Linked DNA regions of Homo sapiens. The protein of the gene in region 4 interacts with the protein of the main gene of each other region in a pairwise test. Each region holds a gene or a part of one and is shown on either strand. Other genes may lie near its edges.

Region 1 (6,156 bases), on a different chromosome or scaffold from region 4:
AGGCAGGGTTTCACCACGTTGGCCAGGCTGGTCTCGAACTCCTAACCTCAAGTGACTTGCTCGCCTTGGCCTCCCAAAATGCTAGGATTACAGGCATGAGTCACTGCACCTGGCCAGAGTTTTTATTTTTAAGCATATATTTTCTAGTTTTTTGTTTGTTTTTAGAGACGAGGTCTCACTATGTTGCCCAGGCTGGTTTCAAACTCCTGAGCTCGAAGGATCCTCCTGCCTTGTCCTCCTAAAGTGCTAGGATAACAGGTGTGAGTCCATATACCCCGATATATTTTCAATTTTTTTTAAAGTAATACATTTTATGTAGTCAGAAAAGAACTTTAAAAATCAGCTAATGGGCCGGACACGATGGCTCAAGCCTGTAATCCCAGCACTTTGGGAGGCCGCGACGGGTGGATCATGAGGTCAGGAGATCGAGACCATCCTGGCCAACATGGGGAAACCCCGTCTCTACTAAAGATACAAAAAAAATACAAAAAAATTAACCAGGTGTGGTGGCAGGCGCCTATAGTCCCAGCTATTTGGGAGGCTGAGGCAGGAGAATCACTTAAACTTGTGAGGCAGAGGTTGCAATGAGCCGAGATCATGCCGCTCCACTCCAGTCTGGGTGACAGAGCAAGACACTTCGTCTCAAAAAAAAAAAAAAAAATCAGCTAATGTATTTTTCTTATAAATAATGTGTGCATATTCTAGGAAACTGATAAGTATTAAAATCGTTTTTAATTATCTTAGTCAACCATTATAAACAGTTTAGTGTGTATTGTCCCAAATGGGAAATCAGCTTTTTTCCATGTATCATGACTTGTTTTTCCAGGCAGTAAATAGAATTCTATGTTATCATTTGCAACAGTGTGGAGTATCCTATTATATAGAAATGTGTACTTTATGTTGGATATTTAGGTTGTTTTAAAATTTTTAATATTCTATACTATGATAAATCTAAATCTTAATGCATGTTCTTAATTACTTCCTTAAATTCCTAAAAGTAGAATTGCTTTGCCAATAAGTATATCCACCAGAAAATTGTGTGCCTGCCGGGCGTGGTGGCGGGCGCCTGTAATCCCAGCTACTGGGGAAGTTGAGGCAGGAGAATTACTCAAACCCTCCCTTGGGAGGCGGAGGTTGCAGCGAGCCAAGATCGTGCCACTGCACTCCAGCCTGGGTGACAGAGCGAGACTCCCTCTCAAAAAAAGAAAAAAGAAAATTGTGTGCCTAAGAGCTTGAACGAGAGTGTCACAATTGTTTGCTTTTTTATGATGTGCTACAGAACTTTGGAACTGATAATTACCTTTAGAGATATTTTTATTCTAATTCCTGGTTTTACAAAATAAGTTGTAAAAGGCAGGGCAAACTACTTAATGCCATTTTAGGATCCTTTAACTCTTCTACTTCGTAACTTTCTCTTTCTATACATAATATAGAAACGTTAAAGAGGCTTTTACCAGCATCACTAAAACTTTAATGACATGTTTGTATTTTATGTTAGGACACCAGCAGTGAAAACACTGTGGTTCCTCCAGAAACATATGTGAAAGTGGCAGGCCACCTGAGATCTTTTCAGGTAAAGTCAGAATAAAATAACAGTTAAAGTGTTTTTGCATGAAGCAGTTTCTAGATTCATGTCATGGCTTTTGGATAGTTAAAATACTTAAGTCTCCCTGTTTAATGGGAAGTTATTTCTTACTCTCTTCAAAAGGAAATAACTTTTCTTTTTTTTTTTTTTAACCTTAACATGAAATTAACAGAATGGTAAAGAAAGAACAGAATCTCCTTCTACAATTGCTATCTGTGGCGTTCATTAGTTGGAGAAAGGAGAACACTAGATTCGGAGTCAGGAGTCTAGATTTTGCTTGGTTATGCAATCTTGGGAAAATTATTAATGTCCCTTAGCTATTAGTTTTAGTTTTTTTTCTCCTCATGTTTGACCATATTTGGAATACCTCTGAGAGTATATAACATTTTTCTCATATTGGTGAAATATTAATATTATAACCAAGGAAAGAGCCACAGTGTTGACCTGAAATTAATGTATGTTCATATTTTATTCACATTTTTTTCCTTCATTTTAATAGAACAAAAAGAGCCTGGTAGCCTTTAAGATCATGCCCCTGGAGGATATGAATGAGTTCACCACACATATTCTGGAAGTGATCAATGCACACATGGTACTAAGCAAAGCCAACAGCCAGGTGAGTAGTCTCGCTTTCCTAGCTTTTTCTCTTCCCTGGAAGAACACAGGCTACTTTTGTGTTCCAGCTTTGATTTCCTTGATATTTTGAAGGCCGAGCCAGAGAAAGACATCACTAAGTCCTCAGAACACTTTCTCCATTAGCTTTGTCATTGTATTTTATTCCAGATGAAACACTCATGTTTCTCTCAGAATTAGGAGTTCCTCTGACTCCACTGGCCTGGACAGCTGAGGCCTGTGACAACCCTCAGGTGTAGACATGTAATTATAGGCTCTTAGCTCTTATATAGCTCTTAGCTCCAGGATTGTCAGTGCATACTCAGAGAGTAGTCCCCTTCAGGACAGCATTTTGCTGTCTTCCTTCCAACTTACTGGCTAAGTAGGAAAAATTATGTATTATTATTTTTTCCCTGAAATTATATTTCTTGGTTCATATTGAAATTTCTCCCTAGTATTTTCCATTGTGTGAATTCACTTTGACAAGTCCATCTAGGACCATGCAAAACTAGAGTTGACTGTAGTATTAGAAAGCCCTCAGGGCAAGGTGTGGTGGTTCATGGCCTGAAATCTCAGCACTTTGGGAGGCTGGTGTGGGGGCATCACTTGAGCCCAGTTCAAGACACCACGCTGGGCAACATAGGGAGACCCTGTCTCTACAAAAAAAATTAAAGAATTAGATGGGCTACTTGGAAGGCTGAGGTTGGGAGATCACTTAAGCCCAGGAGGTCAAGGCTGCATTGAGCTGTGATCGTGCCACTCACTGCAGCCTGGGCAACAGAGCAACCTTGTCTCAAAAAAAAATAAAGAAAAAGAAAAATATTTATTGCGCCTACTTTGATTTGATAGTCCCAATCATTCTAGTCGGCATTCGAGTATAGCAGTGAACACTATATACTTACATTCTTGGGAGAAACAAGTAATAAACAAAAATATATGTATAATTTTAGGTAGTTATATAGGTGCTCTGAAGTAAATAAAACAGGAGAAGAGGCTGATGGAGGGAACAAGAATGGTACAATTTTAGATGAGGAACATTCTAAACCAGAGGGACTAGGATGTGCAAGAGCCAGGAGTGTGGAGTAAGCATGACATCTCTGAAACCAGCAAGGCCAGTGTCTGGAGTGAAGTGAATGACAGGGGAGAGGGAGAGGGTTGTAGGCAAGGAGGCAGGGCCCAGATTATATGGGGCTTTGGAGGCCATGGTAAGGATTACCTTTACTCAAATTTTTAAAATTTTGTTTATTTGGGTTTTTTGTTTTTGTTTTTGTTTTTTTTGAGACAGAGTCTCGCTCTTTCGCCCAGGCTGGAGTGCAGTGGTGCGATCTCGGCTCACTGCAAGCTCCGCCTCCCGGGTTCACGCCATTCTCCTGCCTCAGCCTCCCGAGTAGCTGGGACCACAGGCGCCCACCACCACACCCGGCTGCCACCACACCCGGCTAATTTTTTGTATTTTTAGTAGAGAAGGGGTTTCACCGTGTTAGCCAGGATGATCTCGATCTCCTGACCTCGTGATCTGCCCGTCTCAGCCTCCTTTCAAAGTGCTGGGATTACAGGCATGAGCCACCACGCTTGGCCCTTTTTTTCGAGACAGTGTCTCACTCTGTCACTCAGGCTGGAGTGCAATGGCGTGATCTCGGCTCACTGCAGCCTCCGCCTCTCGGGTTCAAGCAATTCTCCTGCCTCAGCCTCGCCAGTATCTGGGATTACAGGTACGCACCACCATACCCAGCTAATTTTTGTATTTTTAATACAGGCGGGGTTTCACCATGTTGGCATCCGGTTAGCAGTCCGGCTGGCAATGAGGATTTGTGGCCTAGGAGGCGGTCTGGGATGAGATCCTGGGGACACTGTCAGCTTTTTGGGAGACAGATAGAAGAGGCTAATGAGGGATACTGAGAAGGTTCAGTTTGAGAGGCAGATGGAGAACCAGAAGAATGTGGTGTCAAGAAGCCCAGGGAGGAATACATTTCAAGAGGAGTGTGGTCAGCAGTGTCTGCTTCCGAGAGGTCAAGTATTAGGAGGACTGAAAGAGACTTTTGGATAATTGGTTGAAAAGTCTTTGGTGACTTTGGTGAAAACAGTTTCAGAGGTGTACTGGGGGACAACCCAAATATGGTGGGCTGAGGAGTGACTGGGGAGAAAGGAAATGAAAATAGTGATTGCAGAGCATTTTAAGAATTTGGTGGTTAAAAAAAAAGAAAGAAAGAGAGGACGATAGGGACTGTGTCTCCTTTTCTCTGCCTGTGGTGCTTCATGCCTATTGACACTCAGTGAATGCTTGAATGATTGGGCTCCATGGATACCAAAATAGCAGACTCTGGGTAATTTTCTTCTTGCTGCTACTCTTCTCTGGTTCGTCTGACATCACAAACAAAAGGAGCCAAGAGTATCTTTCTCTTTTTGATATTTATGTGCTTCGGGGAGTTACTTTATCTTCCTGTGAAATACTCATTAGATAATAGCTGTCCACTCCAATGTAAGCAGTGTTATAAACTGGGAAACTGTTTATAAATTGTTTTTTGTAAGCTGCTTAACGAGCTATTTTAAGTAGTAAAGACTGTTTAACTTGATGGATTTTCTAATATTGCTAACTTATTTCTTAATTCAGCCCTCAGCAGGGAGAGCACCTATCAGCAATCCAGGAATGAGTGAAGCAGGGAACTTTGGTGGGAATAGCTTCATGCCAGCAAATGGCCTCACTGTGGCCCAAAACCAGGTAACCTCCACCAGAGTGGCTTCAGAAATACAAAACACAGATAGTCTTAAATTTTGTTACTTCCTTAATGAGCTACGACTGTTTAAGTACCTGGTTCATTTCTTTTCTATAAAGGGACTCAGGTTTGCAAAGGGGAGGCTGATCCAAAATAATTGCTAAAATCTTTCTGATTTGAATCTTCAGGTGTTGAATTTGATTAAGGCTTGTCCAAGACCTGAAGGGTTGAACTTTCAGGATCTCAAGAACCAGCTGAAACACATGTCTGTATCCTCAATCAAGTAAGTATTTGATTTTCATGAGCTCAGGCTCTGGCATTGTACCTATTTCACCTCACAAGGGTTTCCTGATAGTGAGAAGTGGGTTTAAAAAGTAAAACTTGGCAGCCGGGCATGGTGGCTCACGCCTGTAATCTCAGCACTTTGGGAGGCCGAGGCAGGTGGATCACCTGAGGTCAGGAGTTCGAGACCAGCCTGGCAAACATGGTGAAAACCCCGTTTCTACTAAAAATACAAAAATTAGCCGGGCATGGTGGCACGCAACTGTAATCCCGGCCACTCCGGAGGCTAAGGCAAGAGAATCGCATGAATCCAGGAGGCGGAGGTTGCAGTGAGCCACCATCACACCACTGCACTCCAGCCTGGGTGACAGAGCGAGATTCCATCTCAAAAAAAAGTAAAAGTTCGCCAGGCATTAGCTCATGCCTGTAGTCCTAGCACTTTGGGAGGCTGAGGTGGGCAGATTGCTTGAACTCAGGAGTTCAAGACCAGCCTGGGCAACGTGGCGAAACGCTTGTCTCTACAAAAACAATAAAAACAAATTAGCCGGGCACAGTGGCGCATGTCTGTAGTCCCAGCTACCCAGGAGGCTGAGGTGGGAGGATCGCTTGAGCCCAGAAAGTCAAGGCTGCAGTGAGCCATCATTGTGCCACTGCACTCCATCCTGGATGACAGAGTGAGACTGTCACACACACAAAAAAAACTTAACTGCAACCCTGTTGGCAGAATGGAAATCGTTCAGCTATGGAAAAATAGGAAAAAGACTATGGGCCAAAATGGTGCTACCCATCACATCACTCATTCAGCAAGCACTAAGGACCACTATATGTGAGGGATATATAATAATTCTGAGCAAAAAGTTGACCTGATTTCATTATGGGATTTAGACTGGAGGAAGGAAGTCCTTAGCTCCTGGTCGTCAGGTGTACAGTCCTGTTGCTGTTACTGTCCCCATTGTGGACATG
Region 2 (6,380 bases), on a different chromosome or scaffold from region 4:
GGGTTCATGTCCTCCCTAGACTCTCTGTCTTCCAGTCTTGGCCTCTCTCTTTTTTTTTTTTTTGGTTCCTGTCTTTTTATTTTGAGACAGAGTCTCGCTCTGTCACCCAGGCTGGAGTGCAGTGGCGCGATCTTGGCTTACTGCAAGCTCCGCCTCCTGGGTTCATGCCATTCTCCTGCCTCAGCCTCCTGAGTAGCTGGGACTACAGGCACCCGTCACCATGCCCGGCTAATTTTTTGTATTTTTTTTAGTAGAGATGGGGTTTCACGGTGTTAGCCAGGATGGTCTCGATCTCCTGACCTCGTGATCCTCCTGCCTCGGCCTCCCAAAGTGCTGGGATTACAGGCATGAGCCTTTCCTTTTTTTTTTTTTTTTTTTTTAATTTTAGAGAGAATCTCACTCTGCTCACTCTGTCACCCAGGCTAGAGTGCAGTGGCGCCATCTTGGCTCACTGCGACCTCCGCCTCCCGGGTTCAAGTGAGTCTCCTGCCTCAGCCTCCCAAGTAGCTGGGATTACAGGCATGTACTGCCACAACCAGCTAATTTTTGTATTTTTTTTTTTTTTTTGGAGATGGAGTCTCGCTTTGTTGCCCAGGCTGGAGTGCAGTGGTGCAGTCTCGGCTCACTGCAACCTCCGCCTCCTGGGTTCAGGTGATTCTTCTGCCTCAGCCTCCCGAGTAGCTGGGACTACAGGTGCGTGCCACCACGTCTGGCTAATTTTCTGTATTTTTAGTAGAGATGGGGTTTCACCATGTTAGCCAGGATGGTCTCGATCTCCTGACCTCGTGATCCACCTGCCTCGGCCTCCCAAAGTGCTGGGATGACAGGCGTGAGACATTGCGCCCGGCCAATTTTTGTATTTTTAATACAGACAGGGTTTTGCCATGCTCGTGAGGCTGGTCTTGAACTCCTGACTTCAGGTGATTCACCCGCCTTGGCCTCCCAAAGTGCTGGGATTACAGGCCTGAGCCACTGTGCCCTGCCAATCCTGTCTCCTTTTGATGCAGCCACTGGGTCTTTCTAACACACATATCTGCTCCTGTCGCTCCCTTTTTCAAAACCATCCATGCATCTCAGGGCCCCAGGACACAAATGAACTCCTCAGCCTGGTGTTTGACCCTCTGCAGGGACTGGCCCCTGCCAGCCCAGCCTTACCGGCCTCAGCCACTTGTCGGTCTCCCTACCTCTCAGGCCACTCCAGCCACACTGAAGTTCTTCCCATTCCTCTGGGCCCTTGCTCATGCTGGGCCTCTGCTTGGAACATTCCTACCCTCTTTTCCCTGGCAACCTCCTTCCTCCAGGCAGCACTACTTGTTCCTCCAGGCTTGGTCCAAACTTTTGTTTTTTTTTGAGATAGAGTCTCTGTCACTCAGGCTGGAGTGCAGTGGCGTGATTTCGGCTCACCGCAACCTCCGCTTCCAGGTTCAAGCAATTCTGGTGCCCCAGCCTCCTGAGTAGCTGGGACTATGGGCATGGGCCACCAACGCCTGGCAAAGTTTTTATATTTTTAGTAGAGACAGGGTTTCACCACGTTGGCCAGCTGCTCACAAACTCCTGGCCTCAAGTGATCCACCCACCTCAGCATCCAAAGTGCTGGAATTATAGGCATGAGCCACTGCACCCGGCCCCAAACTTCTTGACAGGCTTTCAAAACCCTGCAGGATTTGGTCCCATCCCTCCTTCTCTGGGGGATGTGTATGTCTTGCCAGTTCTCCCTTCTATACTTCATGCTAAATCCCCTCCCAGCCCTTGGCAGCTCCAGGGTGGGACAGGTGGGGAACAAGTGGTTAGACCTTGGATCTACTTGGAAGGCAGAGCCAACGTGATTTCCTGATGGAATGGATGTGTAATCTGAAAGAGAGAGAGGAATCAAGGATGATGTCTTCAGACAGTGCTCTCTTGTCTTTCCAGGACTTTGCACCTGCTGTGCCTGAGCCTAAGTTTGCTCATCTGTAAAATGAGGCTAATAATAGCACCTGCTTCTATAGATGTTGAGAAGAAGAAATACATTAATTCACGAAAGTGCTCAGAATGGGGCCTGATGGTCAAGACTTGATCGATGAGGGCTGTTTTTAAAGTTTTCTTCTTATCCATCTTTGGGCTGAGCTCAAATGAATGGGTGTGTCTTCTTCACCTCAGGGCTTAGCAGAGACTCTGTCCTAGAGAGTTTGCCCTCAGTAGGTGAAATGTAACAAGGCAAGGCAAGGCTTTTTCACACTTTGCTGACTGCAATCTACAGGAGGAAATATATTTTATGTGTTAATCAAGGACTGACTGTAGCAGATCCCACCCACATATAAAACTCAAACACACATTTTCCTACCACCAGTATTCTTTCGTTTCTTGGCACTAAAATGAAAGTCACATAACATACATTTACGTGACTTTTCAAAGTGTACAATTCAGTGGCATTCAGTACATTCACAGGGTTGTGCAATCACCACTTCTGTGTTGTTCCAGAATGTTTTCTTTTTTTTTCTTTTCTTTTTTTTGGAGACAGAGTCTCGCTCTGTTACCCAGGCTGGAGTGCAGTGGTGCGATCTTGGCTCATTGCAAGCTCCACTTCCAGGGTTCAAGCAATTCTCCTGCCTCAACCTCTGGAGTAGCTGGAATTACAGGCATGCACCACCACACCCGGCTAATTTTCGTATTTTTAGTGGAAACGGCATTTGACCGTGGCCAGGCTGGCTTGAACTCCTGACCTCAGGTGATCCACCCGCCTCGGTCTCCCAAAGTGCTGGGATTACAGGTGTGAGCCACTGCGCCCGGCCTCAGAACGTTTTCATTACTCTCAGAGGTGCCATGCTTATACTGCTTTGTACCTTATACCTTTGTACCCATATTTATTAAGCAGTCACTCTCCATTTCCCCCAACCCCTAGCAACCACCAATTTGTTTTCTGTCTCTTTTGGCCAATATGATATTCTTTTCCTTTTCCTTTTTTTTTTGAGAAGGGTCTCACTTTGTCACCCAGGCTGGAGTGCAGTGGCACCATCTCAGCTCACTGCAGCCTTGACCTCCTGGGCTCAAGTGTTTCTCCCACCTCAGCCCCCCAAGTAACTGGGACTACTGGTGTGCACCACCACGCCCAGCTAATTTTTATATTTGTATTTTTTGAAGAGATGGGGTTTCACCATGTTGCTCAGGCTGGTCTCGAACTCCTGAGCTCAAGTGATCCACCCACCTCAGCCTCCCAAAGTGCTGGAATTACAGGTGGGAGCCACCATGCCTGGCCTCTTTTCCTTTTTTCTTTTCTTTTCTTTTTTGTTTTTTTTTTTTTTTTTTTTTTTAGATATGGTCTCACTGTGTTAGCGGGGTTGGTCTTAAGCTCCTGGCCTTGCCGGGCGCAGTGGCTCACGCCTGTAATCCCACCACTTTGGGAGGCTGAGGCGGGCAGATCACGAGGTCAGGAGTTCGAGACCAGGGTGACCAACATGGTAAAACCCCACCTCTACTAAAAATACAAAAGTTAGCCAGGCGTGGTGGTGTGCTCCTGTAATCCCAGCTACTCAGGGGGCTGAGGCAGAGGAATAGCTTGATCCCTGGAATCAGAGGTTTTAGTGAGCCGAGATCGCACCACTGCACTCCAGCCTGGGCGACAGAGCTAGACTCCGTCTCACAAAAACAAAAACAAACAAACCAAAAAAACCAAAACAAAACAAAAAAACTCCTGGCCTCAAGCAATCCTCCACCTCAGCCTCCCAAAGTGCTAAGATTACAGGCATGAGCCACCGAGCCCAGCCAACCAATATAATATATCTTTTTAAATTATTATTATTATTTTTTGAGATGGAGTTTCGCTTATGTTGCCCAAGCTGGAGTGCAATGGTGTGGTCTCGGCTCACTGAAATCTCCGCCTCTCAAGTTCAAGCGATTCTCTTGCCTCAGCCTCCCTAGTAGCTGGGATTACAGGCGCCCGCCACCACGCCCAGCTAATTTCTTTGTATTTTTAGTAGAGACAGGGTTTCAACATGTTGGCCAGGCTGGTCTCAAACTCCTGACCTCAGGTGATCCGTCTGTCAGCCTCCCAAAGTGTTGGGATTATAGGCATGAGCCACTGCGCCCGGCCTATTTACAAAATTTTTTTTTTTAAATAATGTTTTAATTTTGTAGAGATGGTGTCTATGTTGCCCAGGCTGGTCTTGAACTCCTGGGCCCAAGTGATCCTCTCTTGCCCTTGCCTCCCAAAGTGCTAGGATTATAGGTGTGAGCCACTGTGCCTGCCCAACCAATAGAATATTCTTATTATATATGATGCACTCTGGTATTTGCCGTTCTGTGCTATTCTGTTTGAATTTAAAAATTGGTCAAGACCCACCAAACTGATTTCCCCACCAAGGCAGTGACACACATTAGAATGACCTGGAGAATTTTAAAAGATACTGATGCCCAGGCCTCACCCTAGAGATTCTGAAGTGGTTTCAGGACTTTTTCTTAATTAAAAGATAAATAGAGATGAGGTCTCACTATGTTGCCCAGGCTGGTCTCAAACTCCTGGCCTCAAACGATTTCTCCCACCTTGGCCTCCCAAAGTGCTGGGATTAAAGACGTGTGCCAGGCTGGGCATGGTGGCTCACGCCTGTGATCCCAGCACTTTGGGGGGCTGAGGCAGGCGGATCACAAGGTCAGGAGATGAAGACCATCCTGGCTTGATCTGTAGATCAAGTGAAACCCCGTCTCTACTAAAAATACAAAAAAAAAAAAAAAAAAAAAATTAGCCAGGCGTGGTGGCAAGTGCCTGTAGTTCCAGCTACTCAGGAGGCTGAGGCAGGAGAATGGCGTGAACGCAGGAGGCGGAGCTTGCAGTGAGCCTAGATCGCGCCACTGCACTTCAGCCCAGGCAATAGAGCGAGGCTCCATCTCCAAAAAAAAAAAAAAAAAAAAAAGATGTGAGCCAGCCAGTTGCAGGATTTCTGGAAGCTCCCAGGTAATGCTATATACAACCAAAGTGAGAACCACTAACCTAACGTTGTCTCCCCAGCTTGGGGAACAGTGAAATGAGACTTAGAGCCAGGGTGATCCAGGAACATAGAGGGACACAGAAAGATACAAAGGCAGGTTCATTTTATTTATTTATTTATTTATTTATTTATTTATTTATTTAAATTTTTTGAGATGGAGTGTCCCTCTGTTGCCCGGGCTGGAGTGCAGTGGTGTGATCTTGGCTCACTGCAACCTCCGCCTCCTGGGTTCAAGTGATTCTCCTGCCTCAGCCTCCCAAGTAGCTGGGACTACAGGCACCTACCACCACGCCTGGCTAATTTTTGTATTTTTAGTAGAGACGGGGTTTCACCATTGGCCAGGGCGGTCTGAACTCCTGACCTTGTGATCTGCCTGTCTCGGCCTCCCAAAGTGCTGGGATTACAGGCGTGAGCCACCGTGCCTGGCCGATTTATTTATTTATTTATTTATTTATTTTGAGATGGAGTTTCGCTCTTGTTGCCCAGGTTGGAGTGCAATAGTGCAATGTCAGCTCACCGTAACTTCTGCCTCCTGGGTTTACAAGATTCTCCTGCCTCAGCCTACTGAGTAGCTGGGATTACAGGCATGTGCCACCACACCTGGCTAATTTTGTATTTTTAGTGGAGATGAGGTTTCTCCATGTTGGTCAGGCTGGTCTGGAACTCCCGACTTCAGGTGATCTGCCCGCCTCGGCCTCCCAAAGTGCTGGGATTACAGGCATGAGCCACCGCGCCCGGCCTATTTATTTTTTTGAGACAGTCTCACTCTGTTGCCTAGGCTGGAGTGCAGTGGCACAATCTTGGCTCACTGCAATCTCCACCTCTCAGGCTCAAGCGATGTTCCCACCTCAGCCCCCCAGGTAGCTGGGACTACTGGTGCATGCCACTACACCTGGCTAATGTTTGTATGTTTTTGTAGAGACGGGGTTTCGTGGTGTTGCCTAAGCTGGTCTCAAACTCCTGGGCTCAAGCATTCCTCCTGCCTTGGCTTCCCACAGTGCTGGGATTACAGGCGTGAGCCACTGCGTCCATCCAGATTCATGATATTTAGATGTTGAAATGTGGCTTTACAGACTCAGACAGCTCTCTGAGGCAAACAAAGAGGGAGATGCAGGTACCCTCAGCACAAGCCCCAAATTACCTGCAGGGGAGAGGCGGAAAATCAGACAATGTAGAAACCGGGAGAAGAAAGGTATGGACAGACCGATGCAGATAGGAGGGGAAGGAAATACCTGGAAATGAGATAGAGACCGGCTGGACAGACCCCGGGGACCCTGCAGGTCACCACACCCTTCTCTTTCAGCTCACCTGTTCTCCAGGACCAGCCCTGCTGGGGCCCAGGCCCAGGCTCTGAGAGGCCGTGTCCTAACCTGCCCTGGCCCCGGAGAAGCTACGTTGCCACCTGTCCCCCTTCCCTGG
Region 3 (6,380 bases), on a different chromosome or scaffold from region 4:
AACATAAGGAAGTGCTTAAAATGTACACTAATGTGAATATACATGCACACTCACAGTTACATTGTCACTGAGGTAAATAAGAAGGTAGAGCCATGGACCAGGCACTTGGCCTCCCATAATCCCAGTGCTTTGGGAGGCCAAGGCAGGAGGATTGCTTGAGCCCAGGGGTTTGAGAGACTCTGTCTTAAAAAAAAAAAAAAAAAAAAGTTATGCTAGGAAGGGAATGATTAACTTGCCTGCAAGAACCTCAGCTTCTCTCAATAACTATTTATGGATCTATGCATTATAAATTTGTAAGCTCTTCATTCTAATCCCATCCCCAGCCCATCATTTTTTTCTCCCAGCGTGTCAACTTAGATAACTTAATTTGCTTTGCTTCTCAGATTAGACCTTATAGTCAGCAAGTTTGTTGGAATTGCTAGCTCTCTGAATTCCTTGCCTCTTTATTTCTGCTGCTTTGACCTTGGTAATCTCTACCTTTGGAGGTTACCTCTTTTCTGTTCTTCCATTTCTAGGTTATCCTGCATTGCCAGAGAGCATCACATAAATACTGTTTCTGCTTGACCTTTGTAAACAATCACGGAGTTGGACTTTAGCTTGACCTCTAGTGCTTGGTGTTCTGGGTGGTCTCATTCACCCTTCTGGCTTCAGTTGTTTTCTGTATATGAATGACTCATGTAACTGTTAACCTCCAACCCATACCTCACTCTCAGTAGCAGACCTGGATATCTGAATGTATATTAGAAGTTTATACTTGGGTGTCCTGTAAATAATTCAACATACATAAAATTAAACTCATCTGAAATCCACTGTTCCCACCTGCCCCTGCTATCCAGCAGAGTGAATGACTGAATGTTAGTCACTCCATTTGTGTAGTTGCCTATGGCAGAAAACTGAGTCATTCTTTTTTTTTTTTCTTTTCTTTTTAAGAGACAGTCTCACTCTGTCACCCAGAATGGTGTGAATACAGCTCAAGGAGCCCCAACCTCCTGGGTTCAAGCAATCCTCCCACCTCAGCTTCCCAAATAGCTGGGTCCATAGATGTGTGCCACCATGCCTGGGCTAATTTTTTTTATTTTTTATTGTGTAGAGATGAGGTCTCACCATCTTGCCTAGGCTGGTCTCAAACCCCTGGGCACAAGCAATTCTCTGCCTTGGCTTCCAAAACTGCTGGGATTACAGGTGTGAGCCACAGCGCCCAGCCCTGAGTCATTCTTAAGTATTCTTTTCCTCACTCTCCACATCTAATCAGTCTCCAACTCTTACTGGTTTGACTTTCTATAAAGTTCTTGACATTTTAACATTTTTCTCCATGACAGCTAAGTTAATCTTCCACAGTTTTGTTCCTTCCTGTCCATTCCCCAAATATAATCAATGTGATCTTTCTGAAAAGAACATGTTACTTTCCTACTTAAAACCTTTCTGTTAACCCCTCATTAGTTACTTTTAAATGCTCATTCTTGGCTGGGCACGGTGGCTCACGTCTGTAATTCCAGCACTTTGGGAGGCCAAGGTGGGTGGATCACCTGAGGTCAGGAGTTCCAGACCAGCCTGACCAACATAGTGAAATCCTGTCTCTACTAAAAATACAAAGTTAGCCGGGCTTAGTGGTGCATGCCTGTAATCCCAGCTACTTGGGAGGGTGAGGCAGGAGAATTGCTTGAACGCGGGAGGCAGTGAGCCAAAATCGCACCACTGCACTCCAGCCTGGGTGACAGAGCAGGACTCCATCTCAAAATAAATAAATAAATGCTCATTCTCCTTGGAATGAGTGAATTAATGGTTTAGTATGACTTAACAAGGCCTTTGTTACTTGACCTCTTTTCAATTTGTATCAGTTTCAACTCTGCTTCAGCCTATAAAAGTTTTTAGGACTTTTTTTTTGTTGTTTTTTTTTTTGAGACAGAGTCTTGCTCTGTTGCCCAGGCTGAAGTGCAGTGGTGCAATCTCGGCTCACTGCAAGCTCTGCCTCCCGTGTTCACGCCATTCTCCTGCCTCAGCCTCCTGAGTAGCTGGGACTACAGGTGCCTGCCACCACGCCCAGCTAATTTTTTTGTATTTTTAGTAGAGACAGGATTTCACCGTGTTAGCCAAGATGGTCTCGATCTCCTGACCTCGTGATCCGCCCGCCTCGGCCTCCCAAAGTGCTGGGATTACAGGCGTGAGCCACTGCGCCTGGCCTTTTTAGGGCTTTTATTGGCAATGGTCTCCCTTGCCTCCAGTCATCTGTCATCTGAAAAGTAATAGAAGCTACAGTGAAGCTACTGAACAAATTAGAACTAGAAGCTTGGTATACAGATAATAAAATTGTGCCTTTACCTTGTATGGGTTTGGAATAAATATTTATTTATTTATTTAAGATGGAATCTTACTCTGTTGCCCAGGCTGGAATGTAGTGATGTGATCTCAGCTCTCTGCAACCTCCACCTCCCAGGTTCAAGCAATTCTCCTGCCTCAGCCTCCCAAGTAGCTGGGATTACAGGCACCTGCCACCATGCCCAGCCAATTTTTGTATTTTTAGTAGAGACAGGATTTCACCATGTTGGCCAGGCTGGTCTCGAATTCCTGGCCTCATGTGATCCACCTGCCTCGACCTCCCAAAGTGCTGGGATTACAGGCGTGAGCCATCATGCCCGGCCAATAATAATTTTTAAAAAGAATACTTTTTTTTTTTAGGAAGGAAGAGGAAGAACTGGGATGGCTGAATCACTAAACATTGATTCCTGGCCTTGCACGGTGGCTCATGCCTGTAATCCCAGCACTTTGAGAGGCTAAGGCAGGCACATCACCTGAGGTCAAGAGTTCAAGACCAACATGGTGAAACCCCGTCTCTACTAAAAATATAAAAATTAGCTGGGCATGGTGGCGGGCGCCTGTAATCCAGCTGCTCAGGAGGCTGAGGCAGGAGAATCGCTTGAACCCGGGAGGCGGAGGTTGCAGTGAGCTATGATGGTGCCACTACACTCCAGCCTGGGCGACAGAGCGAAAAAAAAAATTATTATTAATTAGTTAATTTTTTTTTACAGACACTGTCTTGCTCTGTTGCCCTGGTTGGAGTGCAGTGGCGGGATCTCGGCTCACTGCAAGCTCCGCCTTCCGTGTTCACGCCATTCTCCTGCCTCAGCCTCCCAAGTAGCTGGGACTACAGGCACCCGCCACTGCACCCAGCTAATTTTTTTTTTTTTTGTATTTTTAGTAGAGATGGGGTTTCACTGTGGTCTCGATCTCCTGACCTCGTGATCCGCCCACCTCGGCCTCCCAAAGTGCTGGGATTACAGGCGTGAGCCACCGCACCTGACCTAATTTTTTTTTTAAATAAAAATATTTTTGGCTAGACATGGTGGCTCACACCTGTAGTCCCAGCAATTTTGGGGGCCAAGGTGGGTGGATTACTTGAGCCCAGTTGTTCAAGACCAGCCTGGGCAACATGGCAAAAGCTCATCTCTAGTAAAAATATAAAAATTAGCCAGGTATGGTGGTGCACAGCTGTAGCCCCAGCTTCTTGGGAGACTGACGCTGAAGAGTTGCTTGAACCTGGGAGGCTGAGGTTGCAGTGAGCCAAGAGTGCCACTGGACTCCAGTCTGGGTGACAGAGTGACTCTGTCTCAAAAAAAAAAAGATACATATATATACATACATGAAAAACTTTTTTGCGTTTGCCTTCCCAAAATTCGGGGATTACAGGCTTGAGCCAGTGCGCCTACCCCTTTCCTGTATTTTTTATAAACTGAATTTAAGGAAACTGGTTGATAATAAAATTGGCAATAAGAGGTATTGAAGTTTAATTTCATGAATACTGTCTTTCCTAACAGCCTTGGGTTCAACATTGTGCTTTATGGTTTGGGTTCTAAGAGAGATTTACTAGAAAGGTTTCGAACCACTATGCTGCAAGATTCCATTCACGTTGTCATCAATGGCTTCTTTCCTGGAATCAGTGTGAAATCAGTAAGTTTCAAAAATGTTAAAGGGAAAAACATTATATCCTCTGCCAATTCAAGCCCCCACATAAATGAGGATGGAGTATTAAAGAATTTTTGTTTTAGCCTTCACGGTAGTAGGATTGTATAGTGCTTAATACCATGTGTTTGGACTCAAGAATCTAGCTTTGAAACCATCTTCGAATGTCCTACATTGTAACTGACATGTATTAAAACTTAGGAAAATGTTAGCTTTGTTTACTATACTGAGTATCAGTGGTACTTCTGAAGGAGGGAATTATGGGGTCTTCAGTTTTGTTATAAACTATGAAAATGCTTTATTAGGCAAAAACTACATGCTGTGAAAATGCTTTAAAATGCAACAGGATGTGATGTGAAGACTGTAGTTTAACAATACATTTATCATAGATCATTTTTATTTCAAATGCTTAATATCTCTTCATCATTTGAACATGAAATCTTTTGGGTGCTGGATATTGAGCCATATAGTATTCCTTTTTTAAAGTGTCTGTAGTGTTTGTGTCCTGTTTCCTTTGATAGAACTGTAGTTTTCTAATGTTTCTCATGTTCTTGGGAGCTTTTTCATTTGTTTTTGCTGCCCTCTTATATTACCTATTACCTGTACATCTTTGCTATTCTTTTCTGTTTTCTTTTAGCCACAACTTAGGCAAAAAACAATGAATTAGATATACTCAAGTACCAGTAGAATTTTTAAAAGTTATTTTTTAAACTTTTGGGAAATCCAAATTCATTTTTAATTTATAAAAAAAGGTTTGATTTTCTAGTTGTATATGACAATAAATTGTAATTAATGTGGTACCTCTTCCACATTCATGATATAGGTCCTGAATTCTATAACAGAAGAAGTCCTCGATCATATGGGTACTTTCCGCAGTATACTGGATCAGCTAGACTGGATAGTAAACAAATTTAAAGAAGGTAACATGAAGTAGATGCTCGGTAGTTTTAGAGTAAAGTTAAGCATATACTTCTACTTATTCATGTATTTATATACATACAATATTATTATTATTATTTTTGAGACAGTCTCTCTGTTGCCCAGCCTGGAGTGCAGTGGTGCGATCATGGCTCACTGCAGCCTTGACCTTCTGGGCTCAAGCAATTCTCCCACTTCAGCCTCCCAGGTAGCTCAGATCACAGGCGTGTGCCATTATGCCTGGCTAATTTTTTATTATTTGTAGAGATGAGGTCTCGCTATGTTGCCCAGGATAGTCTTGAACTTCTGGGCTCAAGCAGTCCTCCTGCCTTGGCCTCCCAAAGGGCTGAGATTATAGGTGTGAGCCACCACACCTGGCCCAAAAAGATTATTTTAATAATGGCATTTATCTTGGTGCTCTAAAAAAGTTTGTCCTTTTTCTATGAACTTTTTCCGTGAACTTAACAGGAAAGAAAAATGTTAGTCCCACTTTCTTAAGTTTGTATATCCAAAAGCCTGTTTCTGTTTATAAAACACTCCAAAAGTGCAGTGGCACGATTTTGGCTCACTGCAACCTCCGCCTCCCGGGTTCAAGCAATTCTCCTGCCTCAGCCTCTCAAGTAGCTGGGATTACAGGCGTGCACCACCAAGCCCAGCGAATTTATTTCAGAATAATTTTCAGGTTTTGTTTTGCTTGTGTAAAGTGCCTCCACTTGAGTGGTACAAGTTTGTCTGATATTTTTATATTGTTTAATGTTTTTATAAAACATTATTTCTTGGCTGGGCGCAGTGGCTGACGCCTGTAATCCCAGCACTTTGGGAGGCCGAGCTCAGTGGGTCACCTGAGGTCAGGAGTTCGAGACCAGCCTGGCCAATATGGTGAAACCCCATCTCTACAAAAATACAAAAAAATTAGCCAGGCGTGGTGGCACATGCCTGTAGTCCCAGCTACTTGGGAGGGTGAGGCAGGAGAATTGCTTGAGCCCGGGAGGCAGAGATTGCAGTGAGCCAAGATCATACCACTGCACTCCACCCTGGGTGATAGAGTGAGACTCTATCTAAAAATAAATAAATAAATAAAACATTATTTCTTTATTCTGTGTACATATCATTACATTGAGATAATTTTATATACTAAGATCTCTTGATTCTTTTGGTGTGAATGTTTTGGTTATGTGAGTATGTCAGAAAATTGGAAATAGTATTATATAGTCTCTAACAGTTAATTGCCATTTAGTAATGACTAAATTAAGAATTAAGAGAAGTAATTGAGAATGCCTAACTGCTTTGATGGATAATTTTTTTGATAATGACAATAATCTTAGCTCTGTTCCGTAGTACTTTTATCTTGTCAATATTCTAGCATGTTCTTTAGTTTTGTCTTCATTTTGTTTCCAACCTGAAAAGCTTTCTGTCCCAAATTTCCTTTCACACTCCTACACCCATTTTATCCACAGTTCTTTATAGAAATGGACCGTATACTTTTTTTTTTTAACACAGTCTTG
Region 4 (6,380 bases):
AAATTATAACACTGTATATGTGGAGGAAATATTTAAGAAAATTATATTATAAATGGGGCAGAGTAAAAGACATTAAGAGAAGACAAGGCCAGGCACAGTGGCTCATGCTTGTAATTCCAGCACTTTGGGAGGCTGAGGCAGGTGGATCACTTGAGGTCAGGAGTTTGAGACGAACCTGGCCAACAGAGTGAAAACCATCTCTACTAAAAATACAAAAATTAGCCGGGCATGGTGGCACACACCTGGGGTCCCAGCTACTCGGGAGGCTGAGGCAGGAGTACTGCTTGAACCCGAGAGGTAGAGGTTGTAGTAAGCTGAGATTGTGCCACTGCACACCAGCCTAGGTGACAGAGTGAGACTCCACCTCAAAAAAAAAAAAAAAAGAAGATAAGGTTTCTACATGTGACTCAACTGGTAAAATGATGATACCAGTAGACTGTGATAAGTTATGGATATGTAATGTAATAACCTGAAACAACCACTAAAAAATCTATACAAGGAGATAGACTCACAAACACTAGAGGAAAGAAAAAGAAAGAAAACAGGCTGGACGCAGTGGCTGTAATCCCAGCACTTTGGGAGGCTGAGGTGGGCGGATCACCTGAGGTCAGGAGTTTGAGGCCAGCCTGCCCAACAAGGTGAAACCCCATCTCTACTAAAAATACAAAAAATTAGCTGGGCGTGGTGGCACGTGCCTGTAGTCCCAGCTACTCAGGAGGCTGAGGCAGGAGAATTGCTTGAACCTGGGAGGCAGAGGTTGCAGTGAGCCAAGATCGCGCCACTGCATTCCAGCCTGGGCAACAGAGCGAAACTCCATCTCAAAAAAATAAAAATACAAATAACAAAGAACAAGAAAAAAATAGAATAAAAAAAACAGAGACCAGGAAACAGAAAATAAAATGTCAGACTTAAGCCCTAACATGTCAGTAACTAAAATAAATGTAAGTAAGCTAAGTTTATCAATTAAGAGATAGAGAATGGCTTTAAAAAACATGATTTAAAAATATGAGCCAACTGTATGCTGTTTTAAAAAATTCACTACAAATGTAACAATATAGGCAGAATGAAACTAAAGAATGTGAAAAGATATATCGTGCAAACATTAATCAAAGGAGAGCAGGAGTGGCAATATTAATATCAGATAAATCACACTTCAGAGCAAAGCAAATTACCAGAGACAGAGTGGGACACTAAGTGAATAAAAGGGTCAATCCACCAAAAGGACACCACAATCCTAAATGTGTGCGCACAAGAGAGCTATAAATACGTGAAGTAAAAAGTGATAGAACTGGAAGGAGAAACAAACAAATCTATAATCAGAGTTGGGGTCTTCAATGTCCCTTTCTGAAGAGTTGAAAGTATTACTAGCCAGAAAAGCAGCAAGCAAACAGAACTCAACACCACCACCAACTCTCAGTATGTAAGTGACATTTCTAAAAAACTCTACCCAACAACAGCAGACTATGCATTTTTTTGACTGACTGCAAATGATACTGTATTTTAAATTTTGGTGTCCACGTATTTATGGCTAGCACGCAGAAATAATAAATATTGTTTGTTTTTATGCAGGTATAAATCTAACAAAAACAGAAAATTTATACACTGAAAACTGCACAATGCTGATGGACGAGAAAGGAATGAGCCATTGATACAAGCAAACATGGATGAATCTCCAAGAATTATGCAGAGCGAAAAAAAGCCAATCCCAAAAGGCTACATACTGTATAATTCCATTTCCATTTCCATAATATTGTTGAAATGAAATTACAGAAATGGAGCTCTCTAGTGGTTACCAGGCAGCAGACAAGTGGGTGTGGCTATAAAAGGGCAACAGAGGGATCCTTACAGTGCTGGAAATGTTCTGTATCTTTTTTTTTTTTTTTAAAGCAATACCCATGGGTTATTTTGGCAGTTTCTGAATGCATAAATGGAATAGACATATTCAGTTTCTGGCAGAACTTTCACAGTGATTTCTAACCTTTAGAGTGCCAACTGAAAAATCACATGATTTATAAATTTAGAAAGGAGACTTTCTTTTCTTTAGAGATAGTCTCAGTTGCCCAGGCTGGAATGCAGTTGTGTGCTCACAGCTCACTGCAGCCTCGACTTACTGGGCTCAGGTGATTCTCCCACCTCAGCCTCCCAAGTAGCTGGGACCATAGGTGTGCACCACCACACCTGGCTAATTTTTGTAGTTTTTGTAGAGACAGGGTTTTGCCATGTTGCCCAGGCTGGTCTCCAACTCCTGGGCTCAAGTGATCCGCCTGCCTTAGCCTCCCATCCTGACCGTGATATTATACTACAGGATTTTACCATTGGGGGAAGCTGGGCAAAGTATATAAGTGATCTCTCTATATTACTTCTTACAACTACATGTGAATCTGTAATTATCTCAAAAGAAAAACTTTAATTAAAAAAAAGCCATGGTCCTGGTGAGGAAACTTTTTGCGGGTAATGGAATTGTTCTCTATCATGGTGGGATGGTGGTTGCATCTTTATACATTTGTTAAATCTCATTGAATTGTACCACCTAGTGAATTGTGTAGACATTATGCCTCAATAAAGTAACAAAATTCCCACAGCCTGAGATTTCTTTGACCCTGCCACAATGCATGGTGGGGTCCTGTCCCCTCCCTTGTGGCTACTGGATGCTGAGGTACTCCAAGGCTGGTCGGGAGAGCCATGCAGTGGCTGCCCGGGTGACTGGAATATTCATGCTGGAAGCCTGAGCAGTCATGTTGTAAGGAAGTCACATTCAATGGAGAGACCCTGCAGGTGCTTGGCTCAGTAGTCCTGGTTTGGAGCCCTCCCAGCAGATGTCTGAGCCATGCTTCCAGTTCTTAGCCATTGAGTCCCCACCTGAGGGCCCAGATATCACAGATCAAAAAGATGTCATCCTCACTGGGCTCTGCCCAAATTCCTAACCTACAGAATCCATGAGCATAAGGAAAAGGTTGTTTTAAGCTGCTAGGTTCTGGAGTAATTTGTTAAACATCAGTAGGAACCAAAACAATTAAGTCTAGTTATTCTCCTTATTTTACAATGGCACACAGAGGTTAAGTCACTTGCCTACAGTCACAAAGCTGTTATAGCAGATACAAAATTTGAAACCCGTGACCTGAGCCACGATATTATAGCACCTGTAGATTAAGTATAATTATGGTTATTTTTATAGCGGACTCTCATCTTTGCTGGGGTCCAGCTCTAACATCCAACCTTTAAAAGACAAGTAAAAATGATTCTCGACCCCATGTCTCCTCTTTTCTTTACAGCAGAACTCTTTTTTTTTTTTTTTTTTTTTTGAGACGGAGTCTTGCTCTGTTGCCCAGGCTGGAGTGCAGTGGTGGATCTCAGCTCACTGCAGGCTCTGCTTCCTGGATTCACACCATCCTCCTGCCTCAGCCTTCTGAGTAGCTGGGACTACAGGCTCCTGCCACCATGCCCGGGAAATTTTTTGTATTTTTAGTAGAGATGGGGTTTCACCGTGTTAGCAGGATGGTCTCAATCTCCTGACCTCGTGATCCACCCACCTCGGCCTCCCAAAGTGCTGGGATTACAGGCGTGAGCCACCACGCCCGGCCTATAGCAGAACTCCTTAAAACAATTATTTATAACCTATTGTCTCTAAACCTCTTTGAATGTGCACCCTTATTAATAAAAATATTTCATTCTTTTCTTTTTAAGAGATGAGGTCCTGCTCTGTTGCCCAGGCTGGAGTGCAGTGATGTGATCATGGATCACTGCAGCCTCAACCAACCTCCTGGTCTCAAGGCATCCTCCCACTCTAGCCTCCCAAGTAGCCGGGCCTATGTGACCATGCTACCATGCCTGGCTAATTTTTATTTTATTTTTCTGTAGAGACAGTGTCTTGCTATGTTGTCCAGTCTGGTATAAATATTTCTTTTTTTTTTTTTTTTTTTGAGACAAGAGTATTGCTCTGTCGCCCAGGCTGGAGTGCAGTGGCGTGATCTTGGCCCACTACAACCTCCGCCTCCCAGGTTCAAGCAATTCTCCTGCCTCAGCCTCTCGAGTAGCTGGGATTACCGGCATCTGCCATTGCTCCTGGCTAATTTTTGTATTTAGTAGAGACAGGGTTTCTCCATGTTGGTCAGGCTGGTCTCAAACTCCTGACCTCAGGTGATTCACCCGCCTTGGCCTCCCAAAGTGTTGGGATTACAGGCTTGAGCCACCACACCAGGCTGGTAAAAATATTTCTAAGAATATACCTCTAAAAAGCAGCCGGGCACGGTGGCTCACGCCTGTAATCCCAGCACTTTGGGAGGCCAAGGTGGGAGGATCATGAGGTCAGGAGATCGAGACCATCCTGGCTAACACGGTGAAACCCCGTCTCTACTAAAAATATAAAAAATTAGCTGGGCGTGGTGGCAGGCACCTGTAGTCCCAGCTACTTGGGAGTCTGAGGCAGGAGAATGGCATGAACCCAGGAGCTTGCAGTGAGCCGAGATCGTACCACTGCACTCCAGCCTGGGCGACAGAGCGAGACTCCGTCTCAAAAAAATATATATATACCTCTAATATACACATACTTAGTTATAAATCATGCACAGGTTTTAATTATATAAAAAGTATTCTTCTCAAGAATGCTTAATGTTATTAAAATCAACGCTCTAGACCTAATTTACAGATCATAGAAAATGCAGGGATAGAGAAGCAAGTTAAAGTACTCCATGAAGAAACAAGTAGTAGTAAATATTAGAAAAGAGAACTGGCCTTCAATGTCATTAAAAACAAAAGAAAAAAAAGAGGTAAGGTATGGTTCTAGGTTAAGACAGTAAAGAGGAATAGCTAAATGTCTTAATCTTGATTGGAGAATAGTTCAGAAATAAAAATAGCTGCAAAATATATTTTGAGGACAATTAAAGAGACCTGAATATGGGCTGAATATTACATGATATTAGGATATTATTAATTTCTTATGTATGACAATGGCATTGTGTTTATGGGGAAGAATGTCCTTATTCTTAGGAGCTGCTTATGAAAGAATGTGTAGAATATCATGGTTTCTGGCTGGCTGTGGCAGTGCATGCCTGTAATCCTAGCTACTTGGGAGGCTGAGGCAGGCGAATCGCTTGAACCCAGAAGACAGAGGTTGAAGGGAGCCGAGATCGTGCCACTGCACCCCAGCCTCAGTGACAGAGTGAGACTCCATCTCAAGAAAAAACAAAATAAAAAATAAAAAAGAATATCAGTTTCTGCAATCTATTCTCAAATAATACAGAAAAAAGAATACACAGAAAGAAAGCAAATGTGGCAAATGTGAAAAACTGTTTTTGTTTTTTTTGAGACAGGTTCTCTTCATGTTGCCCAGGCTGTTCTCAAATTCCTGGGCTTCATCAATCCTCCTGCCTTGGCCTCCCAAGTAGCTGAGACCACCTACAGTCATGATCCACTGTTGACTCTAGATTGAAGGTACATGGATATTCACTGTACTATCCTTTCAACCACTGTATACATTTCAAAAAATTTCAAAATAAAAAGTTGGTGGGAAATTATGCCTATTATAATCCATGAATATTATGTTAAACATTTACAAACACAAATTCCAAATTGATGTGTTAAGTATGTAAAAGGAAACGCTGATTATTTTCCTGTATCTCATCAAGACAACCTACCTTCTCTTTATTGCCAAACCCACTGGTCTGTTCTCATTTGCCTGTTCCTTTGGCACTGCTGGCCAAGCCTTCCTTGAAACTTTCCTTCCCACCTCAGAGCTGCAGTGTCTATGGATGCTCTGCCCAGGAATCCTCTTGGCTCCATCCCCTGCTAACTCATGTTTGATACCTGAAAGCTTTCCCTAATTGTGCTCATTTACATGATCAGTATCTGTCTCCCCCAATGGAAAGCTTTGCAAAGGCAGGACTTTGCTCTCATACCCGCACCCCAGGGCCTAACTGGTACCTGGCACATAGTAAGTGCTTAAAAAATATTTGTTTATTAGTCAGAGTGGAAAATTCCAAGACTTATCTGTAGAACATGAATGTTTCCCGGGAAATCCCATTGGATACTGACATTTGGGAACCAATGAAATGCAGCTCATCGATAGTTAAAAGAATGCTATATAAAAAAAAATTCAGAGAACAAAAAGGACCCCTCACAAACCAAAGATTAGAAGATAAAGACCAAGCTGAGTGTAGTGGCATGTGCTTAGTCTCAGCTACTTGGGAGGCTGAAGTGGGAAGATCGAGTGAGCCCGAAGTTTGAGGCCAGCCTGGGAAACAGAGAGAGACCCCGTCTGGGGAAAAAACAAAAAAAAAACAAAAAACAAAAAGTCTTCCAAAAAATAGAACAAAGAGCTGGGCAAGAGGTAAGAAAATATAACAGTGGGTCCAAGAGGTTCCCTATGAGACACCCAAACCTAG
Region 5 (6,243 bases), on a different chromosome or scaffold from region 4:
AAGAGAAAGGGGCTCAGAGTGAGGAGGGGGTTGCCACCTCAGACCCCATCACTCACACTCTGGCATGGGGCTCTCCTCTGGGACAGAAACTCTCCCCAAGCCTCACACTGTGACCCTCCTAACCTGAAAATTGCAGTGACATAGGCACAGGCTCCAGGAATCACATAATGAGACAGACTCCAGTCTGCCCTGCCCGGCAGTGGGAGCTGCCACTGGCTTTAACTGGTACCATGACCTCCGACTTGAAGTTCCTAGAAAGGAAATGAAGCAACAACCTTTGAAGTATTTGAGGGAAGAAGAGTCGATGGGGCAGGGCAGAGGTGGTAGTTCTCTGTGCCTGTGGCATCCACTCAGCTCTCCCCTCATGAGGTTCAGAAAGTTCAAGAACCTGCAGAAAAGATAAAGATAACCAAGCCCCCCTACACTTCCTTCTGCAAAGCACAGAGGCCCTGGAAACTCGGGGAATCTGATGCTCACCACTTGCAAATACCCAGTTTTCTGTGGGCTTTTATCATCTCTGTTGCTTCACTAACCTTTTATAGTACCTCTGTGAGGCAGGCTAATTGGGTAAATAGACTTCAACCCAGTTTACAGATGAGCAAAATAGAAGCAGAGACATTGACTCGTCAATGGCCTCACAACTAGTAAGTGATGGGGACAGGGCTGGAAGCATTTTCCTTGCCCCCTCATCCAGAACTCATCCCTCCCTATATAGCTGCCTATGAGTGGGAGAGGCCTTTGTGTCCATTTCTTTCAGTCCTGTTGACCGATTTCTTTCAGACCCAAGCTGGGGCTCCATCTTTGGCTAAAAATACGTACTGTTTTTTGTTGGCCTTTTTGAGGAGTGTGGGCTCAGAGCAGTAGGAGGACTTTCCTTTGCTCCCAATGTTCAGGCAGCTGGAGCAGCAGCCACAGGGCCCGGCGGCCAGGGACCCCTGATGCATGGGCACCAGGCTGCTGCTGATGTGGAGGGAGCCATTGACCAGGCAGTTGAGGGACCTGCCACCAGGGGCAGTGGGCCGGCGGCCATGCTGGCAGGGTAATTGGGTCAGGGCAGGGAGTGCTACACTGTGGTCCAGGACAGGTGCCTCGGTGATGGTGATCTCAGGGGAGCTGGGTCTAGAGGTTTCTGAGGCTTGAGTTTCAGGCGGCCTGTTCTCCACCTCTGGGCGGACGCCCGGGCTGTGCAGGTTCATGTGTAGCTTCCTCATGTGGTGCACCACAGCTGCTGCGTTGAAGGCTTGCTAAGGAGACACAAGAGCAGCCTCTGGCCTTCTGCAACCTCAGAGGGCCTTGGAGCTTAAACTTTCCCTTTGCCTTGTGGCCTCTTGAAACCTGGGTGCCCACTTCTCATTTCAGAGAGGGTACACGGAGCTCCAATGCCTTCTGGGACATCCCAAGGAAAGCCCTTATGTCAGCCCCTGCCAGCCCAGCCTCCAGGGGCCCAGAACAGCTTTCCCACCCCCTGGAGAGGACAGCTTACCCTCCACTTGCTCTTAGCAAAGTTCTTCTGGATCTGGAGGCTGACTGATGGGTAGATGTCCCGGTGGAGGGCTGTGTTTCCGTCAATCCTGTGGATGTAAGAGGGGACACCTGGCTACTGGGTGGCTATTTACACTCATCCAGGGAGTGGGCAGGGTGCCTGCAGGTCTAGGTGAGAGCTGGGTAGAGTGTGCAGAGGAAAGACAGCCCACAGCAGGAAAGGGCTGCAAGCAGGTCTCCTCTGTGCCCCTGGGCAAGTAAGAGTCGGCTTTAGCTTTGGCAAAATCAAAAACTTTTAGAGCAAGGTCAACAAGCTATAGCCTATAGGCCAAATCGACCTATTGCCTGTTTTTGTAAATAAGGTTTTATGGGGACACAGTGGTGCCCATTAATTCAGGTATTGTCTGTGGCTCCTTTTGCACTGTGACAGCAGGGTTGAGTAGTTGCCATAAAGACAGTATGGCCAGGAAAGCCTAAAATATTTACTATCTGATGCTTTATAGAAAAAGTTTATTGGACCCAGCATCACAGGGCACTGGGGTAGTCACCATCCTTTAGCTCAAAACCTTGCCTAGAACCCACCTCCTCCTGGAAGCCTTCCTCAGTAAGGCCGTCTGGTACAGGCTGCCCCTTTCCTATCCCCTTAGCCTCTTATTCACTGGTCTCTAAGTGTTCCTCAGACACTTGCTGTGTGCATAGTACTGTGCCAACTACTAATAGACCTCGAGAAGTAAGAGACATGGGCCCTGACCCCTAGGAGCCTACAGTCTAGATGTCGGGTGTTGTTCATGCTATGGACTGCAGTAATACATGGTAAGCCGTGTGATTAATAAAGAGAACTGGGGAGATTGGGTTGGGCTGCAGGGGTCAGGGGCTTCAGGGAAGGGCAGAGACTGATCTGGATCCTGAAAGATGCTACATACAGGGCAAGAGGCAGGACATTGTAGGTAGTGGGAATGATCTGATCCAAGGTGTAGTTAAGACAGAGCTTGGTATGTGGGGTGAGACAGATATAGCTCCCAGGCCTATCTGGACAGAGGAGGTATGCTGGCAATCCTGGGAAAAGAGGCTGGAGATAAAGGGTCAGGCCATATTAGGGAAACTGGAAAGACAAAGGAATCCAGGCTTGCTGGGGTATGAAGTGGGGAGCTATTGTAAATTGAGTTGGGAAGTAACATGAAAAAATATTTTAAGATTTTCTTTTTCCTATTTTGCCAATCGGTTGCTTTGCAGTTGTTCTTAAATCACTTCACCTGGAACAGTTATTGATCCCTGAGTAAAACAAAGCTCTAAAGGACAGGACAGAGTTGCCCATTCCTGGCACTTCTTGAATAACTAGTACTGAACATTGCACCCTATCCCAGTGCTGAATGACAGCGCTCGGCTGCACCTGCCTCCTGCACTTGACCAGACAACCCAGCTGCTACCCTTGCATTAGAACCTGCTCCACTGTATAATGTTTGAATCTCTACCTGGGCCTGATGAACAATGGCATGGTCCTTGCTTGTCACATCATTAAATGGATCAGGACAAGCAGATTCCAGGGAAATGCAATATGAATGAGTCAGCATGGTTTTGGGAACTACAGGGCTGGGGTCTAGAGTCCACTCCATGTCTCACTCACCAGGGATGACTCAAGGCCTTCTCACAGGTGTACCGCTCGTTCGGATCCTTCTCAAGCAAGTGGCAAATAAAGTCCTTGGCTAAGGGGAGTAATCAAAGACACGACGACTAAGGACCAGATTTCATGACTGATGGAAATTCACTTCCGGGCTGGTGGGTGGCAGTGAATGCATCTTTAGCTGATCTTCCAAAGAGGCAATTTTAAGAGTCTTAGAAGAGGAAAAAAAATCCAAACCACCTAACAACAACCCACCATAAACCACCAAAGAAGGGAAGCTCCAAGCCGCCTCACCCACACAGCACTGCAGAAGCGTCACTAGTCACAAGGCCCCCATGTGCCTGCACATCACATGTGCATGTGTTTGCACTGAAACAGGGGCCAGCGCTGGCACATGGGCACGCATGTGAGTGCTGGATTGTTCCAGCTCTGATTTCCACTTAACAGGTCCAACAATCACGTAATGATCATCTTCTCTCACACATAGACATTGCATGCTCTTTCTTGATATCTAACCCCTTAGTTTTGCTGCTCTTGTCTGGAACTCTCCCCTCACCACCTGGCTCTGCCCTCCTGGCCCATCTTCTAAACTGCCCCCCCATCTCCTTTTCAGGCATACTGTGGTTCTGCCTCCAGAAAAACAAAAGCATAGCTCTTAGATGTAAATAATTTATCGGGTCTTTGAAGCAGACGAAGATTTCTCCACTTTCCTTGGCAGCCTGTTCTGTAAGATCCCCAGGGACTTTGAAGAGCCGGGACTGTCATCCTTTGTTAAGCTCATTTCTCTTGGCAGCCTCTACCTTGAGCCTGTTATCTCTCCTTCATGCCTACTGGCCTTACCTGACTCAGAAATGTCATCCCAGAATGGAGACTCAAACTCATAGTAGCCCTCCTTGATCTTCTCGAAAAGCTTAGACTCCGTTTCTTCATAGAATGGGGGGTATCCACAGAGCCTGCAGCAGGACAGGAAGGAGGCATACTACTGAACAAACCTGTCCTCCCTGAGCCAGCCTCTCTGCTCCCCCAAGCTCCCACTGTATACACAGGTGGGCACTGAAGGTCCCAGAACAGTGGTGTGACCAGGACGCAGATCTGCCTCAAATTCCAGAATGGTACAGGTCCCGTAAAGTGTTTATGCAAGTGCCAAGCCTTGGCACAGTCATCCCTAGAAGGTCCCTGTGTACATTATGCCCTCCAACCCTTGCCACCTCTCCTTATACTTTCCCTGACTTATGAATGCTATATAAAATATGTTTAAGAAAGTTGGTAGACTGTCTACTTGAATGTAAGCTTGATGAAGGATTTATTTAGGCTGTGTTGTTCACTGCGGGATTCTTTAGAACCTAGCACAGGGATAGATGCAGAGTAGATAGGCAGTGAATATTGGTTGGGTAAATAAATGAGAGTACTTATTCAACATAAATGGAGGAGATAATTGAAACCAGGTTATTTTCCTAAGAGCAAAGTTTGCTATAGGTGAGGAGGGATGGTGGGGAAGAGGTGATGGGCAGGTTAGGAAAGGGAGAGCTTGGGAATGTGTGGAGAGGAGCGAAAAGGAAAGGCCCTGACCAGCTTTATCCAGGCCACAGTTTTGCCTTGGGAAAGCTGAGATGTAGGAACAGAGGGTCCACCTGGCTTCCAAGCCTGGCTTGGCCTCTCTCTTTTTCACTGTTCATTCCACTGAGTGGGATGCAACACATTTATAGGCAGTAAAAGGGGCAGGGGTGCAAGAGGAGGGAGTGCCAGGTGGCTGTGCAGTGGATTCACGCTGAGCTCTGTTTTAAAACTTGGTGGAGGTGAAGAGAGAGGAAGCTTTTAAGCTGTGTGTACATGTATGTGTGTGTGTGTGTGTGTGTGTGTACCCGTGTGCCCCTGTGCCTGTGTCTGTTTGTGCACATGCACGTGCTTGGAGGAGGAGCTGAGACAGGGGAGGGAACGAGAAGGGGTAAGCAGGCTCCGAGACTTCTCATCAGCTGAACCCAGGCCAGCGTCTACTCACAATATGTAGGTGATGACGCCGATGGACCAGCAATCCACAGCCTTGCTGTAGGGTTTCTGGGCCAGCACTTCTGGAGCTGCAGCAGACCAAGGGCAGAGTCAGGGCTGGTGGCAAGAGGAGAGGGCTTTGGGGTGGGAGCTGAAGGCCAGGCTTAGAGAAGAGGTCTGGGGAAGACTGTGGGATGGTGGGGTTTCTAGGAGACTGAAAACTCCCTAAGGGTAGGGGCTGTGTCTCTTCTGGGAAGACTAAATCTTCCTGAAAAGAGAGACTGTGACTTCTGCATTAGTTTGTGAGTTTCCCCATGACAGGGTCGATGACTCACCTGTTGGACTGGGGATCTCCAGGGCTATGTCTCCCTGATTACACTGAGTATTCTCTGAAGGCAGGGCCTGTCTCCCCACTCAGATAGGGGATTCCCAGGGCAAGTGTGATCTCTCTCCCTTCAGACTGGGAGATCTTCAGTGTAGGACTGTCTCTCCTCCACTAGACTGGGAGCCTCTGGGAGGCAGAGACTGAGTCACCCCCATTAGATTAGGAGCTCCCAGAGCAAAGGCAGTATGTCTCCCATCAGACTGTGGGTACCTTCTGAGGGGAGGCATTTAGTCTGTCCCATCAGATAGAGAGCTTTCAGAGGGCATGAGCCATGACTTCCTCTGATTAGGAGCCCTGTGGGGTGTAGAGAGCTGCCTTCTGTATTTCTTGCAGCTACCAGAGCTTTGTACCTGGTGGGACTCAATACCTACTGAGGAGTGAATGACCTGCCTTTCTGGGAGGGTAGATTCCCTCTCTTGAGTCAGAGCTCTGCTTCCCATTACCCAACTGCAAACAGGTGACGACTGGTGAAGTGGGAAGGGACAGGAGCGGATGCTCTGAGTTTCAACTTTGTCTCCTGTAGATCCCAGGAATACTCTTCCAGGTGCCCTGCCTGCTCTCACTCTTTTTGGGGGCCCTGGAAACCTACAGGGATGTTCAAGCAGGAAGCTCCACCTTTGCCAATTTCCCAGAGTGCTTCCTTGGGTGGACATTTAGGAGCCCATTTCTGGGTTCCTCAGGCCCAAATTCAATATCCTGTGCTTCCAGGCTCCCAAGAACTGGGGGCTAATGTCTCCTTCAGAGTGGGAGAAAGGAGTAGGGTTGGTGC

What was found.
Region 1: the proteins of CDC45 (region 4) and RPA2 interact in binary tests that used the Homo sapiens proteins (3 or more experiments, as listed by UniProt).
Region 2: the proteins of CDC45 (region 4) and RAB4B interact in binary tests that used the Homo sapiens proteins (3 or more experiments, as listed by UniProt).
Region 3: the proteins of CDC45 (region 4) and ORC2 interact in a two-hybrid assay, tested with the Homo sapiens proteins (one large-scale study listed by BioGRID).
Region 5: the proteins of CDC45 (region 4) and CAMK1G interact in a two-hybrid assay, tested with the Homo sapiens proteins (one large-scale study listed by BioGRID and IntAct).

The regions. Positions count from the first base shown.
Region 1 is NC_000001.11:27,893,050-27,899,205, reverse strand, and holds part of RPA2 (replication protein A 32 kDa subunit), read left to right. Parts: intron 1-1,498; coding exon 1,499-1,573; intron 1,574-2,084; coding exon 2,085-2,201; intron 2,202-4,808; coding exon 4,809-4,916; intron 4,917-5,099; coding exon 5,100-5,194; intron 5,195-6,156. UniProt on the Homo sapiens protein: As part of the heterotrimeric replication protein A complex (RPA/RP-A), binds and stabilizes single-stranded DNA intermediates that form during DNA replication or upon DNA stress.
Region 2 is NC_000019.10:40,790,306-40,796,685, forward strand, and holds part of RAB4B (ras-related protein Rab-4B), read left to right. Parts: intron 1-6,264; 3' UTR 6,265-6,380. UniProt on the Homo sapiens protein: The small GTPases Rab are key regulators of intracellular membrane trafficking, from the formation of transport vesicles to their fusion with membranes.
Region 3 is NC_000002.12:200,924,333-200,930,712, reverse strand, and holds part of ORC2 (origin recognition complex subunit 2), read left to right. Parts: intron 1-3,812; coding exon 3,813-3,945; intron 3,946-4,780; coding exon 4,781-4,877; intron 4,878-6,380. UniProt on the Homo sapiens protein: Component of the origin recognition complex (ORC) that binds origins of replication. DNA-binding is ATP-dependent. The specific DNA sequences that define origins of replication have not been identified yet.
Region 4 is NC_000022.11:19,484,833-19,491,212, reverse strand, and holds part of CDC45 (cell division control protein 45 homolog), read right to left. Parts: intron 1-6,380. UniProt on the Homo sapiens protein: Required for initiation of chromosomal DNA replication. Core component of CDC45-MCM-GINS (CMG) helicase, the molecular machine that unwinds template DNA during replication, and around which the replisome is built.
Region 5 is NC_000001.11:209,606,793-209,613,035, reverse strand, and holds part of CAMK1G (calcium/calmodulin-dependent protein kinase type 1G), read right to left. Parts: intron 5,179-6,243; coding exon 5,103-5,178; intron 4,057-5,102; coding exon 3,944-4,056; intron 3,186-3,943; coding exon 3,107-3,185; intron 1,572-3,106; coding exon 1,484-1,571; intron 1,245-1,483; coding exon 820-1,244; intron 252-819; coding exon 161-251; 3' UTR 124-160; intron 1-123. UniProt on the Homo sapiens protein: Calcium/calmodulin-dependent protein kinase belonging to a proposed calcium-triggered signaling cascade. In vitro phosphorylates transcription factor CREB1.